Linked DNA regions of Homo sapiens. Changing the gene in region 2 together with the main gene of any one other region gives a genetic interaction. Each region holds a gene or a part of one and is shown on either strand. Other genes may lie near its edges.

Region 1 (3,507 bases), on a different chromosome or scaffold from region 2:
AGCAGCCACTGGAGCTGAGGCCTGGAGAGTACAGGGTGCTGTTGTGTGTGGACATTGGCGAGACCCGGGGGTGAGTGAGGTGGGGAGAAACGAGGGAGATGATCAGAGGAGGCTGGGGGGTAGGCACTGCCCTGCTCTGATCTAGGCTTCCCTCCTTGCCACTCCAGGGGCGGGCACAGGCCGGAGCTGCTCCGAGAGCTACAGCGGCTGCACGTGACCCACACGGTGCGCAAGCTGCACGTTGGAGATTTTGTGTGGGTGGCCCAGGAGACCAATCCTAGAGACCCAGGTGAAGGGCCGTGGACAGGCTGGCACCAGGGGCAGGGCCTGGTGGGTAGGGGATCGCAAGCTAACGGCTGGCTTGTCAGCAGCAAACCCTGGGGAGTTGGTACTGGATCACATTGTGGAGCGCAAGCGACTGGATGACCTTTGCAGCAGCATCATCGACGGCCGCTTCCGGGAGCAGAAGGTAATTTTGCTGGCTTTGCCAGGCTTCCCTGCCTGCTCCGAAGCCCCGTTTTCAGCCCAGAGCAATCCAGGGGCACTTCTGGCAGCCTCCTTGAGGCAGAGCCCTTTGGAATCCAGCCACACCCACCCTGTGGCTGCTCCAGGATCAGACCCCCACAGGCCCATCCAGGCGCACAGTAGGAAGCCAGGTACCTGCATTCTTGGGCTGAGGTCAGGAGCATTTTAAAGACCTCTTGGGTACCCAGCCCCTGCAGTCTTGGATAAACAAGGCATAAACCTCCAGGAGTGGAAATACAGAGGCTGTACCTTGGTACTTGCTGCTGGGTGGACCCCTAGTCACAGAGGCCATGTGCCGGCCCAGGGGAGGCTTGAAGGATGGGCAGTGTTGAGAGATGGAGAAAAGGCTTTCTAGACAAGAGTGTCAGCATGAGCAAAGCTGCGGAGGCCCCTGTGAGGCAGGTGGAGAGGCTAGGGAGGATGCAGAGGCTAACTGGTGGGAACAGGGTCCCGGCACCATTTTGAGTGTGACATCATGGATGCCCAGGCATGTGGTCATCCAGCCTGACCCTCCCTGTCCACTCTGTACACTTCCCTAGTTCCGGCTGAAGCGCTGTGGTCTGGAGCGCCGGGTATACCTGGTGGAAGAGCATGGTTCCGTCCACAACCTCAGCCTTCCTGAGAGCACACTGCTGCAGGCTGTCACCAACACTCAGGTGAGCTGGGAGGGCAGGGCCAGGCAGGCAGGCAGGGGCCCCTGTGGTCCATGGTTCATGGTCTAGGCCAGGAGCCACCTTCCCTCTCTTGGGTCCTCTTCCCCAGGTCATTGATGGCTTTTTTGTGAAGCGCACAGCAGACATTAAGGAGTCAGCCGCCTACCTGGCCCTCTTGACGCGGGGCCTGCAGAGACTCTACCAGGTGAGCAGAGGCCCCTTTCCCAGTGTCGGGACAGAGCCCACAAGGAATTCACCTTGCCTGGGCCCTGTGCATCCCCAAAAGAAGCAAGGTGGGTGAGATCCCCATTTCTCAGGCTGGCCCCCCAAGGCTGAGGACTGGGCAGGGGCTGGCTGGAGTTGTTCCTTCGAGCTCCAGCCTGGCCTCAGTCCCTTCTTCCCTCAGGGCCACACCCTACGCAGCCGCCCCTGGGGAACCCCTGGGAACCCTGAATCAGGGGCCATGACCTCTCCAAACCCTCTCTGCTCACTCCTCACCTTCAGTGACTTCAACGCAGGAGCCATCAAGAATAAGGTACTGTCTCTGCCTAGCTTCTCAGACATGGCCTGGCCCAGACCCCCACTGATCCAGCCCTTTCCCGAACCCAGGCCCAGTCGGTGCGAGAAGTGTTTGCCCGGCAGCTGATGCAGGTGCGCGGAGTGAGTGGGGAGAAGGCAGCAGCCCTGGTGGATCGATACAGCACCCCTGCCAGGTAGGCCCTAAAGGGCCCTTAGGTGTCCTCAGCCCCTGCCCTCCATGCATGGAATTCACCTTAATCCATGCTTCGTGGAGGGGGCCTGGCCTTGTGTGGGCTCTGCAGACCAGAGATAGACAGATCCCAGGGTGCTCGTGGAGGTCAAGTGGGGAGGAAGCCAGCAGGCCCACATAGTGTCCCAGGTAGTGGAGGCCACAGGAGGGAGGGAGACGTCCCACCTGGTGGAGAAGAGGCTTCCTGGAGAAGGGGTTGGGCCATTAAGGGGAGTGAGGGTGAAGGTTTGGAGCCTTTGCTGGTTTTGCCCCAGAGTTCCCACAGGGAGGGAGGACAGCCCGGCTGGCATGGGGCCTTGAGTGCCAAGCTCAGGAAGTGGGGCAGTGTCCCAACTCTTCCATCCCATGCTGACCCCTCTGCCTGGCCCCTCATGGTGCTGGCCCAGAGTGGGCCACTGTCAGCCTCAGAAACTCAAACCCCTGCCCCCCAGCCTCCTGGCCGCCTATGATGCCTGTGCCACCCCCAAGGAACAAGAGACACTGCTGAGCACCATTAAGTGTGGGCGTCTACAGAGGTGAGGGCAAGAGACGGAACCTGGAGGGAGTGGCAGGGACTGGGGCTGCCCTAGGCCCAGGGCGTGACCCTCGCTGCCTCTCTTCCTGCAGGAATCTGGGGCCTGCTCTGAGCAGGACCTTATCCCAGCTCTACTGCAGCTACGGCCCCTTGACCTGAGCTTATGCCGTGAAACAGCCCCCAGCCCCCGTCTGTCCCCCAACCCAGGCTAGCCAGCCTTTTAACAACATCTTTTGGGGTACAATTAGAATCTAAGTGTTTGCAGCCATATGTGTCATGTAGAAGATGCCTAGCCCTGGGGACCTTGTGAAATACGCAGGAACCAGGGATACCATCTGGTCCAGTGGTTTTTAAACAAAGCTGCTTAGCACCTGGAATTCCCTGGTCAGGGAGATGGAGTCAGTGGGGCATTGCAGCTTGGAATCTATTTTATGTCACCAGTTGGTCCTCATCAAATAAAATTTCCTTAGGAGTGCAGAGGGCTCATTGGGAAAATAAAAATAATAAAAATAAATAAAACTTCCTAAAAGAAAAGATTGAAAACCACTAACAGTCCAGTTGCCTCGTTTTATAGAAAAACAGGCCCAGGGAACTACTAGGGCTTATCCAAATGTACAGTTTGAGGCAGAGTTAGGAATGGAACCCAGGGCCTCCTGGCGCTGTCCAGAGTGGAGTTTCTTAGGACCCCTGCAAGCCAGCCAAGTCCAAATCTCTGGGCCGGGGCCTGGAGTCCGCCCTCCTCGTTACCTCCTCTCCTCTCGGGGTGACTGAAGCTCGTGGTGCAGAGCTCCCAGCTCCTGTCAATGGGGGCCCCTGGGCCTGAACATATAGAGACCCCCATTTAGGTGAACTTGGCCTGCCCCCCCAAGTGCCACCCTGCCCCAGCCTGAGGCTTCCTGCAGTGTGACCCGCCCACCTCAGCCACCAGGACTTTCTTTCTCCCTTTATTGCCTTTCTCATTCTGCCCCTCACAACAGGCTCCTCAGCTAGGGTAGCTGCAGGGAGGGTGGCTCCCTCCTGCTCCTCAGAAGGTGTAGGCCCCTACA
Region 2 (3,773 bases):
TTCCTACTCATTACAGATGGCAGGAGAGCTGGCTGACAAAAAGGACCGTGATGCATCACCTTCCAAGGAGGAAAGGAAGCGATCACGGACTCCTGACAGAGAGCGGGATAGAGACCGGGACCGGAAGTCTTCCCCATCTAAAGATAGAAAGCGGCATCGTTCAAGGGATAGACGTCGAGGAGGCAGCCGTTCTCGCTCTCGTTCCCGTTCCAAATCTGCAGAAAGGTAAAGTAACTTTGTATGTTATTACATGGGAAGGGAGAGTACGTTTCAGATTTCTTCCTTCTTGGTTCTTCTGATGCCTCCAGTATTAGGCATCTACTTTTTATTTTTATTTTTTGAGACAGAGTCTCGCTCTGTTTGTTACCCAGACTGGAGTGCAGTGGTGCGATCTCAGCTCACTGCAAGCTCCGCCTCGCAGGTTCACGCCATTCTCCTGCCTCTGCCTCCTGAGTGCGTAGCTGGGACTACAGGCGCCCGACACCATGCCCGGCTAATGTTTTTGTATTTTTAGTAGAGATGAGGTTTCACCGTGTTAGCCAGGATGGTCTCGATCTCCTGACGTGATCTGCCTGCTTCAGCCTCCCCAAGTGCTGAGATTATAGGCGTGAGCCACCGCGCCTGGCCTTTTTTTTTTTTTTTTTAAAAGATGGAGTTTCACTCTTGTTTCCCAGGCTGGAGTGCAATGGCACGATCTCGGCTCACTGCAACCTCTGCCTCCCAGGTTCAAGCAATTCTCCTGCCTCAGCCTCCCGAATAGCTGGGATTACAGGCATGTGCCACCACACCTGGCTAATTTTGTACTTTTAGTAGAGACGGGGTTTCTCCACGTTGGTCAGGCTGATCTCAATCTTCCGACCTCAGGTGATCCACCCACCTCAGCTTCCCAAAGTGCTGGGATTACGGGCGTGAGCCACCACGCCCGGCTAGGCATCTACTTTTTGTACATTAATCTACTCCTAGCCCAGTTGGACCTGCAGGTGTTTTCAGTTTTCCTCAGTGACCCAACTCTTAAAAGTTGAGAGGGGGCCGGGCGCGGTTGGTTCACGCCTGTAATCCCAGCACTTTGGGAGGCCGAGGCAGGTGGATCACGAGGTCAGGAGATCGAGACCATCCTGGCTAACACAGTGATACCTGATCTCTACTAAAAATAAAAAAAAAAAAAGTTGAGAGGGAACTAGTAAGGTGAAGGTCCGGGTTATCAAGGAAGGTTCATCTGTGGCCGGGCGCGGTGGCTCATACCTATAATCCCAGCACTTTGGGAGGCCGAGGTAGGTGGATTACTTGAGGTGAGGAGTTTGAGAGCAGCCTGGCCAACATGGCAAAACCCCGTCTCTACTAAAAATACAAAAATTAGCCAGGCATGGTGGTGCACATCTGTAATCCCAGCTACTCGGGAGGCTGAGGCATGACAATTCCTTGAACTCGGGAGGCAGAGGCTGCAGTGAGCCGAGATCACACCACTGCACTCCAGCCTGGGCGTGAGAGTGAGACTCCATCTCAAAAAAATAAAAAAGGAAGGTTCATCTGTTCACATAGTCCGTGACCTGTCATTGCCGTTAATATTTAACAGTACATCTCTGATCTATAAAAGCTTCTTAGAATTCCCTCGTTATTTCCGTGAGAGATACATTCTCTAATTTGTAAAACATTACTTTGGGACGAGAGTATAGGAACTTTCTCAGGGCTGCAGTGAAGCAAGATACTTTGGAAATACCAAGTGAACTCTTAAATTTGCGGTCTTCCAGAGAACGACGGCACAAAGAACGAGAACGAGATAAGGAGCGGGATCGGAATAAGAAGGACCGAGATCGAGACAAGGATGGGCACAGACGGGACAAGGACCGTAAACGATCCAGGTACATGAAGGAATGAGAGGGGGCTTTAGGGGAATGCTCCCATTTCTTCTCTGCACCTGAGTTTGCTCAGCTTCTTATGAAAGTAGATTTCTCGCCAGGCGTGGTGGCTCACGCCTGTAATCCCAGCACTTTGGGAGGCTGAGGCTGGTGGATCACGAAGTCAGGAGATCGAGACCATCCTGGCTAACATGGTGAAACCCCGTCTCTACTAAATATACAAAAAATTAGCCGGGCGTGGTGGCGGGTGCCTGTAGTCCCAGCTACTCAGGAGGCTGAGGTAGGAGAATGGCGTGAACCCGGGAGGCGGAGCCTGCAGTGAGTCGAGATCACGCCACTGCACTCCAGCCTGGGCGACAGAGCAAGACTCTGTCTCAAAAAAAAAAAAAAAAAAAGAAAGAAAGAAAGTAGATTTCTCTTAACAGATTCTGTTGGTAGTTATTACAGAGCTCTCTTTCTTATTTATTTTTATTTATTTTTTTGAGGCAGGGTCTCTTTTGCCCAGGCTGGAGTGCAGTGGTGTGATCACAACTTACTGCAGCCTTGACTCCCCCAGGCTTAGGTGATCCACCCACCTCAGCCTCCTGAGTAGCTGGACTACAGGCATCTGCCACCAGATTTTGTTTTTTTTGGGTTTTTTTTTTTTTAATTGATCATTCTTGGGTGTTTCTTGCAGAGGGGGATTTGGCAGGGTCACAGGACAATAGTGGAGGGAAGGTCAGCAGATAAACAAGTGAACAAAGGTCTCTGGTTTTCCTAGGCAGAGGACCCTGCGGCCTTCCGCAGTGTTTGTGTCCCTGGGTACTTGAGATTAGGGAGTGGTGATGACTCTTAACGAGCATGCTGCCTTCAAGCATCTGTTTAACAAAGCACATCTTGCACCACCCTTAATCCATTCAACCCTGAGTGGACACAGCACATGTTTCAGAGAGCACAGGGTTGGGGGTAAGGTCACAGATCAACAGGATCCCAAGGCAGAAGAATTTTTCTTAGTACAGAACAAAATGAAAAGTCTCCCATGTCTACCTCTTTCTACACAGACACGGCAACCATCCGATTTCTCAATCTTTTCCCCACCTTTCCCGCCTTTCTATTCCACAAAACCGCCACTGTCATCATGGTCCGTTCTCAATGAGCTGTTGAGTACACCTCCCAGACGGGGTGGTGGGCGGGCAGAGGGGCTCCTCACTTCCCAGTAGGGGCGGCCGGGCAGAGGCGCCCCTCACCTCCTGGACGGGGCGGCTGGCCGGGCGGGGGGCTGACCCCCCCACCTCCCTCCCGGACGGGGCGGCTGGCCGGGCAGAGGGGCTCCTCACTTCCCAGTAGGGGCGGCCGGGCAGAGGCGCCCCTCACCTCCTGGACGGGGCGGCTGGCCGGGCGGGGGGCTGACCCCCCCACCTCCCTCCCGGACGGGGCGGCTGGCCGGGCGGGGGGCTGACCCCCCCACCTTCCTCCCGGACGGGGTGGCTGGCCGGGCGGGGGGCTGACCCCCCTACCTCCCTCCCGGATGGGGCGGCTGGCCGGGCGGGGGGCTGACCTCCCCCACCTCCTTCCCGGACGGGGCGGCTGACTGGGCAGAGAGGCTCCTCACTTCCCAGTAGGGGCGGCCGGGCAGAGGCGCCCCTCACCTCCCGGACAGGGCGGCTGGCCGGGCCGGGGGCTGACCCCCCCACCTCCCTCCCGGATGGGCGGCTGGCCGGGTGGGGGGATGACCCCCCCACCTCCCTCCTGGACGGGGCGGCTGGCCGGGTGGGGAGCTAACCCCCCCCACCTCCCTCCCGGACGGGGTGGCTGCCGGGCGGAGACGCTCCTCACTTCCCAGACGGGGTGGCTGCCAGGCGGAGGGGCTCCTCACTTCTCAGACGATGTGGCTGCCGGGCGGAGGGGCTCCTCACTTCTCAGACGGGGCGGTTGTCA

What was found. A genetic interaction does not mean that the proteins touch.
Region 1: changes in DDX23 (region 2) and MUS81 impair growth when combined (synthetic growth defect), as found in Homo sapiens cells (one large-scale study listed by BioGRID).

Annotation. Positions count from the first base shown.
Region 1 is NC_000011.10:65,863,433-65,866,939, forward strand, and holds the end of MUS81 (structure-specific endonuclease subunit MUS81), read left to right. Parts: coding exon 1-70; intron 71-145; coding exon of another isoform or gene 146-167; coding exon 168-289; intron 290-368; coding exon of another isoform or gene 369-371; coding exon 372-469; intron 470-1,064; coding exon 1,065-1,181; intron 1,182-1,287; coding exon 1,288-1,383; intron 1,384-1,584; coding exon 1,585-1,713; exon of another isoform or gene 1,714-1,714; intron 1,715-1,787; coding exon 1,788-1,891; intron 1,892-2,378; coding exon 2,379-2,462; intron 2,463-2,553; coding exon 2,554-2,620; 3' UTR 2,621-3,007; downstream 3,008-3,507. Other genes in the region: EFEMP2 (EGF-containing fibulin-like extracellular matrix protein 2 precursor), read right to left, coding at 3,486-3,507. UniProt on the Homo sapiens protein: Catalytic subunit of two functionally distinct, structure-specific, heterodimeric DNA endonucleases MUS81-EME1 and MUS81-EME2 that are involved in the maintenance of genome stability.
Region 2 is NC_000012.12:48,842,026-48,845,798, reverse strand, and holds part of DDX23 (probable ATP-dependent RNA helicase DDX23), read left to right. Parts: intron 1-16; coding exon 17-225; intron 226-1,748; coding exon 1,749-1,859; intron 1,860-3,773. UniProt on the Homo sapiens protein: Involved in pre-mRNA splicing and its phosphorylated form (by SRPK2) is required for spliceosomal B complex formation.